2 linked regions of the Homo sapiens genome follow. The protein of the gene in region 2 interacts with the protein of the main gene of each other region in a biochemical or structural test. Each region holds a gene or a part of one and is shown on either strand. Other genes may lie near its edges. The genes, in order: SMC5 and SLF2.

What was found.
Region 1: the proteins of SLF2 (region 2) and SMC5 form a complex in vitro, tested with the Homo sapiens proteins (one study listed by BioGRID).

What each region holds. Positions count from the first base shown.
Region 1 is NC_000009.12:70,317,704-70,321,631, reverse strand, and holds part of SMC5 (structural maintenance of chromosomes protein 5), read right to left. Parts: intron 3,119-3,928; coding exon 2,945-3,118; intron 2,839-2,944; coding exon 2,669-2,838; intron 1-2,668. UniProt on the Homo sapiens protein: Core component of the SMC5-SMC6 complex, a complex involved in repair of DNA double-strand breaks by homologous recombination.
Region 2 is NC_000010.11:100,915,788-100,919,715, forward strand, and holds part of SLF2 (SMC5-SMC6 complex localization factor protein 2), read left to right. Parts: intron 1-211; coding exon 212-255; intron 256-782; coding exon 783-1,513; intron 1,514-2,596; coding exon 2,597-2,654; intron 2,655-3,928. UniProt on the Homo sapiens protein: Plays a role in the DNA damage response (DDR) pathway by regulating postreplication repair of UV-damaged DNA and genomic stability maintenance.

The sequences.
Region 1 (3,928 bases), on a different chromosome or scaffold from region 2:
GGCGGGAGGACTGATTGAGGTCTGGTGTTCGAGACCAGCCCCAGCAACATAGCAAGACCCCATCTCTACAAAAAAGCTGGGCATAGTGGTGCACACCTGTGGTCCCAGCCACTCAGGAGGCTGAGGCGTGAGGATTGCTTGAGCCCAAGAGTTCAAAGCTGTAGTGAGCTGTGAGCATGCCACTGCACTCCAGCCTGGGTAACAGAGCAAGACCCCGTCTCAAAAAAAAAAAAAAAAGACATTTGACAATATTATATTTACATTTTGTACAGAATTCTGTGGAATATATGACCCATTAAGGCCAAGCAGACATAATTCTAATTGTCACAAGGAAGACTGCAACTAAATGAGTGAGATAAACCCTCAGGTGCCCAATCTATTCTGTGAAACTCAATATAACCTCCTCCTTCCCTATTACTCTCTTTCAGAACTAGAGAAAAAACAGCCTAGTTTGACAATTTTTCTGCCTTCCCCTCTCCTCTCCTACCATTCAGAACTCAAGGGACATATTGTTTTGGATAATCATGTAGGGCAGTGGTTCTCAAAGTCCGGTCTACAGACTCCTGGGGATACCTGAAACTATTTCAGGAGTCTGTGAGTTAAAAACTATTTTCATGGTGGTAACAGGACATCATTTGCCTTTCTCACCATGCTGTCATTTGCACTGACGGTGTAAAAGCAATGGAAAGTAAAAATGCTAGTGCTTTAGAATAAATCAAGGTAGTGTACCAAAACTAGTGCACCAAAGTATACTAGTTCTTAGATTCTTCACTGCCATGCAATTGAAATTTTTAAAAATGCCAAATTCCCTTAAGAATATCCTTGATGAAGCAGTAAAATTCATAAATTTTATTAAACCTCAAAATCTTAAGTATATATATTTTTAATATTCAATGTCATGACATAGGAAGTACATAATATAGTTGTCCCCCAGTATCCATCAGACATTGGTTGCAGGACTCCCTAAGGATTCCAAAATCCACAGATGCTTAAGTCCCTTATATAAAATGATGTAGTATTTGCATATGGCCTATGAACATCCTCCCATATATTTTATATTATCTCTAGATTAGTTATAATACCTAATACAACATAAATGCTATGTAAATAGTTGTTATATTGTATTGCTTAAGGAATAATGACAAGAAAAAAGTCTGTATGTGTTCCATACAGACATAACCATCCATTTTTGTCCCCCTGAATATTTTTCTTTCTTCCCTCCTCCCTGCCCTGCCTAAAGAGATGAGGTCTTGCCATGTTGCCCAGGCTGGTCTCAAACTCCTGGACTCAAGTGATCCTTCCGCCTTGGCCTCACAAAGTGTTGGGGTTACAAGTATGAGACACTGCACCTGGCCTCTTGAATATTTTTGATCTGTGGTTGGTTGAATCCATGGATGTGCAACCCACGAATATGGAGGGCAGGCTGTGCTTATTAAATATTTGTAGTATATTCAAAAGTATAAATGTTGTTTCAAGGAAAAGCACTTGTGTGACTAAGTTTGGAGTTATACTAGACATTTTTTTCATGGAATACCATTTTTATTTAAAAAAATGACAAACTATAATTATCTGGACTTGGCTATTTGGTCATTTTTCTTTTTCCAAACAGGAATAAAGTGAGCTTGTCATTTCAAGGAAAATAACTGACAATATTTGTTGCCAATGATAAAGTTCAAACTTTCAAATGAAAATTTGAATTTTAGAAAATCTGTATCCACTGGCAAGCTTGACAGCTTCCCAATTCTTAACAGCTTTTCTGATGGAATCAGTGATCAATGTGATCTTTTAAAAATATTACATAATAAAATATGTCAACGTTTGAAATATCTATGTGACTTGATGAACCAGTATTCTCCCAATGACCAATGCATGCTATAACTAAATCATTTACAAGTAAAAGCGCCATCTAAAGTGCAATGGATTTTAATGTAACAGAGTACACAAGTTCACTGATATGGTTTCAGATTCCACACTGCAATTAAACTTTAATAAACTACACTTTGGCAAATTTTGATGTAGTATTAAAGAATAATATCCACAATTACCTGAAAAGTCTAAAATACTCCTCCTTTTCCAACTGCATATTTATGGGAAGCCAGATTTCCTTCATATACTTCAACTCAAACATCTCACTACAAACTCAATATACAGAATTAAGTAGGGAAAAACCTACTGACTTCAACTAAAGAAATCTGCAAAAATGTAAAACGCCACTCTTCTCACTAAATGTATTTTGTCTGGAAAACAGCTATTTTTAATACATTTTTATGTTAACACATAATGGGTTTATTTTTAAAATGAATTACTGCCCCATCTCCACCTAAAAAAAAATAAATTAATGAATATTTTAAACATTCTCAGTTTTAATTTCTAATATGGTAAATATCAATAAATACAATCCATGTAAACAAAACCTCTTCAAGGTCCTCATTAATTTTTAAGCATATAAAGGAGTCCAGAGACTGGAAGAACAGAAGAACTTGCAACACTCAAGATTCATCTCCTTTTGCCCTATGGAATAAAATTGTGTTTTATGCAGTAAGATTAAAGATTAAAGAGAAATTACTACAAAGCGTGCTTGTGGAAATGCTGTTGTTATTACAGTGTATAATTAATATTCTCCCATACAGTAATTTGTGCTCTCCCCCCTGAATAGGCTAAAAGATACCTTCCTAGTTTGGAACTGATTTTTTGTTCCAGTTGTCTTTTCTTGGTTTTTCTCTCAAGAAGCTCCTTCTTCTTTTGTCTAAGTTCATTGTCTTTGTGCTCCAGATGTTTGCTTGTTTCACGTAAGGCAATCAACCCTGAATCCACTGCTTGCAATTTTCTATGAATTTCCTATAAAATATTTAAAAATTGTTAACATATTTAAAAAACTGTTCCAGTGAAACTATTAGAAATCCAGTTAATATTCTTTTCTAACATTCAGATCAAATTAACCAACCTTTAGCTGTTCTTCTAAGTGTCTTCTCTGCTCTAGGTCCACAGTGACAGTGAGAAACTGCGCTACTTTTAGAGATGTGTTACTAGAAATAACTTTGTTTGAATAAAAAGAAGTTTTCACCACATACTTTTCTTCTGCTGTATAAATCTGTTTTAATCGGGTTTCTTGTATTACCTATAACGTAAAACAACTATTAGTGCACATCTAATATAAATTATATGTTTTAAAGTACTAAATTAGAAATACAGACCAAGTGAATTTTGGAAGATCAAAATATACGAGATATACATTTTTTTTTTTTAGACAGGGTCTCACTCTGTCACCCAGGCTGGAATGCAGTGGCACGAACTCAGCTTACTCCAGCCTCAACCCCCCAGGCTCAAGTGATCCTTCCACTTCAGCCTCCTGAGTAGATGGGACTACAGGCATGTGCCACCACGCCTGGTTAATTAAAAAAAATTTTTGTAGAGATGGAGTTTTTCCATGCTTCCTATGGGGGCGCTGGTCTTGAATTCCTGCCTCTGAGATTCTCCCGCCTGGGTCTTCCAAAGTGCTGGGATTACAGATGTGAGCCACTGCATCTAGCAATTTTTTTTTTAACCTATCCAACAAAATTTCAAAAAAGGCGGCCCATACAACTAGCAAAGTCAGCTATACTTCTACGCTACTATACAACTCTCCCAAGTAGTTTTGGAGCTTTGTTACATCTAAAGAAGAGATAGCAGGAGAGAAGAGTGCTCAGCACATTGAACTGTTATCTTGGGTAAGTCATTTACTCTCCCCTCCTCTCAGTTATACTGTTCAAAGATACATAATCTTATATTTAGTTCCTGTATATTTGGGAAGAATAATCAAATGAAACATTTTTCATAGATTTCAAAGCCTTTTCTTATTTTTAAAGTTTTTTAGAACTTTTCTCTGAAGAATTTATACATGGATTTCATAAACTAAAATATATTATAAATACCACAACCATACCACTAT
Region 2 (3,928 bases):
TTTTTATAAATGAACTCCTATAGGAAGTGATACGTTATATTTTCTGTTTTTTTAATGAACAGTTTAGCAAAGCATTGTTACCATTGTCAGAACTTTATTAAACCAAATAGTGAAATCCAGCCTTTATTTTATAAATCTTTCTCCATTTAATCTGAGTTATGAAGGTTTTAATATTTGCTTATATGATGCCATATTATGCTTTTATTTTCAGGAAGCAGTCAATTATAGATTTCTTCAAACCAGCTTCAAAACAAGGTATGTACACTGTTGATGCATTTTTTGTGGGCTATTTTGGGGGTGAGGAGAGAGACAGATTCAACTTTAAAACCTACTCTAAACTGTTTTAGTAAACGTAGTGTTCAAAATTGAAAATAAAATGAAGATGCAGTATTTTGTTTTACAAGGATAAACTGAAGTTCTAAATATGAAAGTCTTTTTGCTGTTATGTTTTCTTACATTTAAAATATTATTCTAGTAAAAAATTTAATGTTCATAATACATACTATTTTGATTCTCTAATACAGTAATTTATAGAGCCATAGGGAGGTTATATGATGTACCAAAAGAGAGCTTTATGAAACTAAGGCTTTTAACAAATAAATCATCTCTTAATTTCTCCTATACCCCCCAATAAAGTGTGTATCATTATCCAAGTTGTTGGTTTGAAAATTTTTGTGGTAACATTAGTATAGTTTAATTTATATTTTAAACATTAATAATTTAGATAAATATTAAATATTTTACTAACATGCAATTTGTATGTGTTTTAATTGGCTATTTAGACAGACACATGTTGGATTCACCACAAAAATCAAACATCAAATATGGAGGAAGTAGATTGTCTATCACTGGGACAGAGCAGTTTGAAAGGAAACTATCCTCACCAAAAGAATCTAAACCCAAAAGGGTGCCACCAGAAAAGAGCCCTATTATAGAAGCTTTCATGAAAGGTGTTAAAGAGCACCATGAAGATCATGGTATACATGAGTCACGTCGGCCTTGTCTGTCACTAGCCTCCAAATATTTAGCCAAAGGAACAAATATCTATGTTCCTTCTTCATATCACTTGCCAAAGGAGATGAAGTCACTAAAGAAAAAACATCGATCCCCAGAGAGAAGGAAGTCACTATTCATTCATGAAAATAATGAGAAGAATGATAGAGATCGAGGCAAAACCAATGCAGACTCCAAAAAGCAGACCACAGTGGCAGAAGCTGACATCTTCAATAACAGCTCCAGAAGCCTTAGCAGCAGGAGCAGCCTGTCCAGGCACCACCCGGAAGAAAGCCCACTGGGAGCTAAATTCCAGTTGTCACTAGCTTCTTACTGCAGAGAACGAGAACTAAAGAGGTTGAGAAAGGAGCAAATGGAGCAGAGAATCAACTCCGAGAATTCTTTCTCAGAAGCAAGCAGTCTTTCCTTAAAATCTAGTATAGAAAGAAAATATAAACCAAGGCAGGAACAAAGGAAACAGAATGACATCATACCTGGAAAAAATAATCTGTCAAATGTGGTATGTGTAAGAATTATTGAATTAGCATTGCTACTGCTATGTCATATTTAGAATACTAAATTTAAAAATATTTAAGAGTTGTTACATCACATTGACGTCTTTCCTGAAGGAAATACTTATGCACAGTTTGTGTAGAAGCTGGTTTCATTACATTTCCTCCAGTTGCCCTTCATCGAACTCAGTAAAGCAGTGTTTCTTATCCTTAGTTTTTTCAGACTGGGAACAAAGATCTTTTTTAGTCAGAAAAGTAAGCATTCTTTTTTTTTAAGGCAAGTATAGTCTTACTTATTTATGTGTAGACAGTCTTGCTCTGTTGCTCATGCTGGAGTGCTATGGCGTGATCATGTCTCATTGCAGTCTCAAACTCCTGGGCTCAAATGATGCTCTCACCTCAGCTTCCCAAGTAGTCGAGACTCCAGGTACCTGCCACCATATTTGACTAATTTTTGTATTTTTTTGTAGAGACAGGTCTCCCTATACTGCCCAGGCTGGCCTTGAACCCCTGGCCTCAAGCGATCCTCCTGCTTCCTGTACTTTGGGAGGCCTAGGTGGAAGGATTGCTTGAGCTCAGGAGTTTGAGACCAGCCAGAGCCACATATCGAGACCTTGGCTCTACTACAAATAAATAAATAAATAAATAACCAGTCATGGTGGCATGTGCCTGTTCTCCTAGCTACTTAGGAGGCTAAGGTGGGAGGCTCGCTTGAGCCCAGGAGATCAAGGTTGCAGTGAGTTTGATCACACCATTGCACTCCAGCCTGGGTGACAGAGCGAGACCTTGTCTCAAAAATACAGTGTTCTAATATAATATTCTTGAATTATTGATATAAACGTAAATCAGCATTTTGAAAACTGACTTCATTTTTATGATATTTTTACATGTTTATGATACAAATGCCCTTAATTTTTATGACAAAAACCTTAAGATCTTTAAATATTTTATTATAGACATTAGGATTTACCTCCAAATATGGGTGCTTGCCTTATTCAATCTAGAAATCTGTGTTTAAATGTTAGGAAGAATGCCTTCACATTCTTTACTGTCCCCAACACTTAATTAATTTTATCTCATTGTGCTCATAGGAAAATGGACATCTCTCAAGAAAAAGATCCTCTTCTGATTCATGGGAACCTACTTCAGGTAGAATCAAAATTAAATTTATGGATTTCTAAATAAATTTCCATTTTAATGGCACTGCTTTTTAAAATAAATTTGTTTAAATATGCAGTTCCCTTCTTGGGGATGAATTAAGTGTCTCATATTAATTAAGAGTTTGGTAAGATCATATTAAAAAAGACTAGTCCCTGAATCTAGTACTTATAATTTGGGTTTGTTTTTGAGACAGGGTCTTACTCTGTCACCCAGGCTGGGATGCAGTGGCATGATCACGACTCAACTGCAAGCCTTGACCTCCTGGCCTCGAATGATTCTCCCACCTCAGCTTCCTGAGTAGCTGGGACTACAGATGTGGGCAACTATGCCTGGTTAATTTCTTGTATTTTTGTAGAGACGAGGTTTCGCCACGTTGCCCAGGCTGGTCTCAAACTCCTGAGCTCATGAGCCACCACACCTGACCTAGTGCATATAATTTGTAATCTGTCTTGAATCTCTGCCCTCTTCAGGAGTTCCTAACAGTATGTTTCTCATACTGGTATTCAGTGTTTCCTTCTGAATCCTTGGCTACATCAGGAAACATAATCTTTTTTTTTTTTTTTTTTTTTTTTTTTTTGAGACAGAGTCTCGCTCTGTCGCCCAGGCTGGAGTGCAGTGGTGTAATTTGGCTCATTGCAAGCTCCGCCTCCCGGGTTCACACCATTCTCCTGCCTCAGCCTCCCAAATATCTGGGACTACAGGCGCCCACCACCATGCCCGACTAATTTTTTGTATTTTTAGTGGAGACGGGGTTTCACCACGTTAGCCAGGATGGTCTCGATCTCCTGACCTCGTGATCTGCCCACCTCGGCCTCCCAAAGTGCTGGGATTACAGGCATGAGCCACTGCACCGGGCCCCCAGGAAACATAATCTTATTATCTTGGAATTGTAGACTGAGTTGTTGGTATTATGTTGAAGATGCTTTGTATAGGGTTGAGACTGTTACCATGATAAAAAGCAGTGTTCTCTAATATTTCAAATCCAAGGATCCCTTTTTAATATTAAATTTCAAGGATATCTACATGACATTAGTTTGTACTTTTAGCATTTATTGATTGAAAAAAATATAAAATAACAAATCTGTTAATTCAGTACATTTTATCTTTTTTTAAAACTAGAAAATAGAAGATTAAAAAGGCAAACACTGCAGAAGTTTGCAACAAGAAATGAAAGGTCTCCACAACTAACAACAGTTAATAGTCTAGTGTATCCGATTTTTTTCCTGATGTGACTATACATTTTGAAAAACAAATTCCCACAT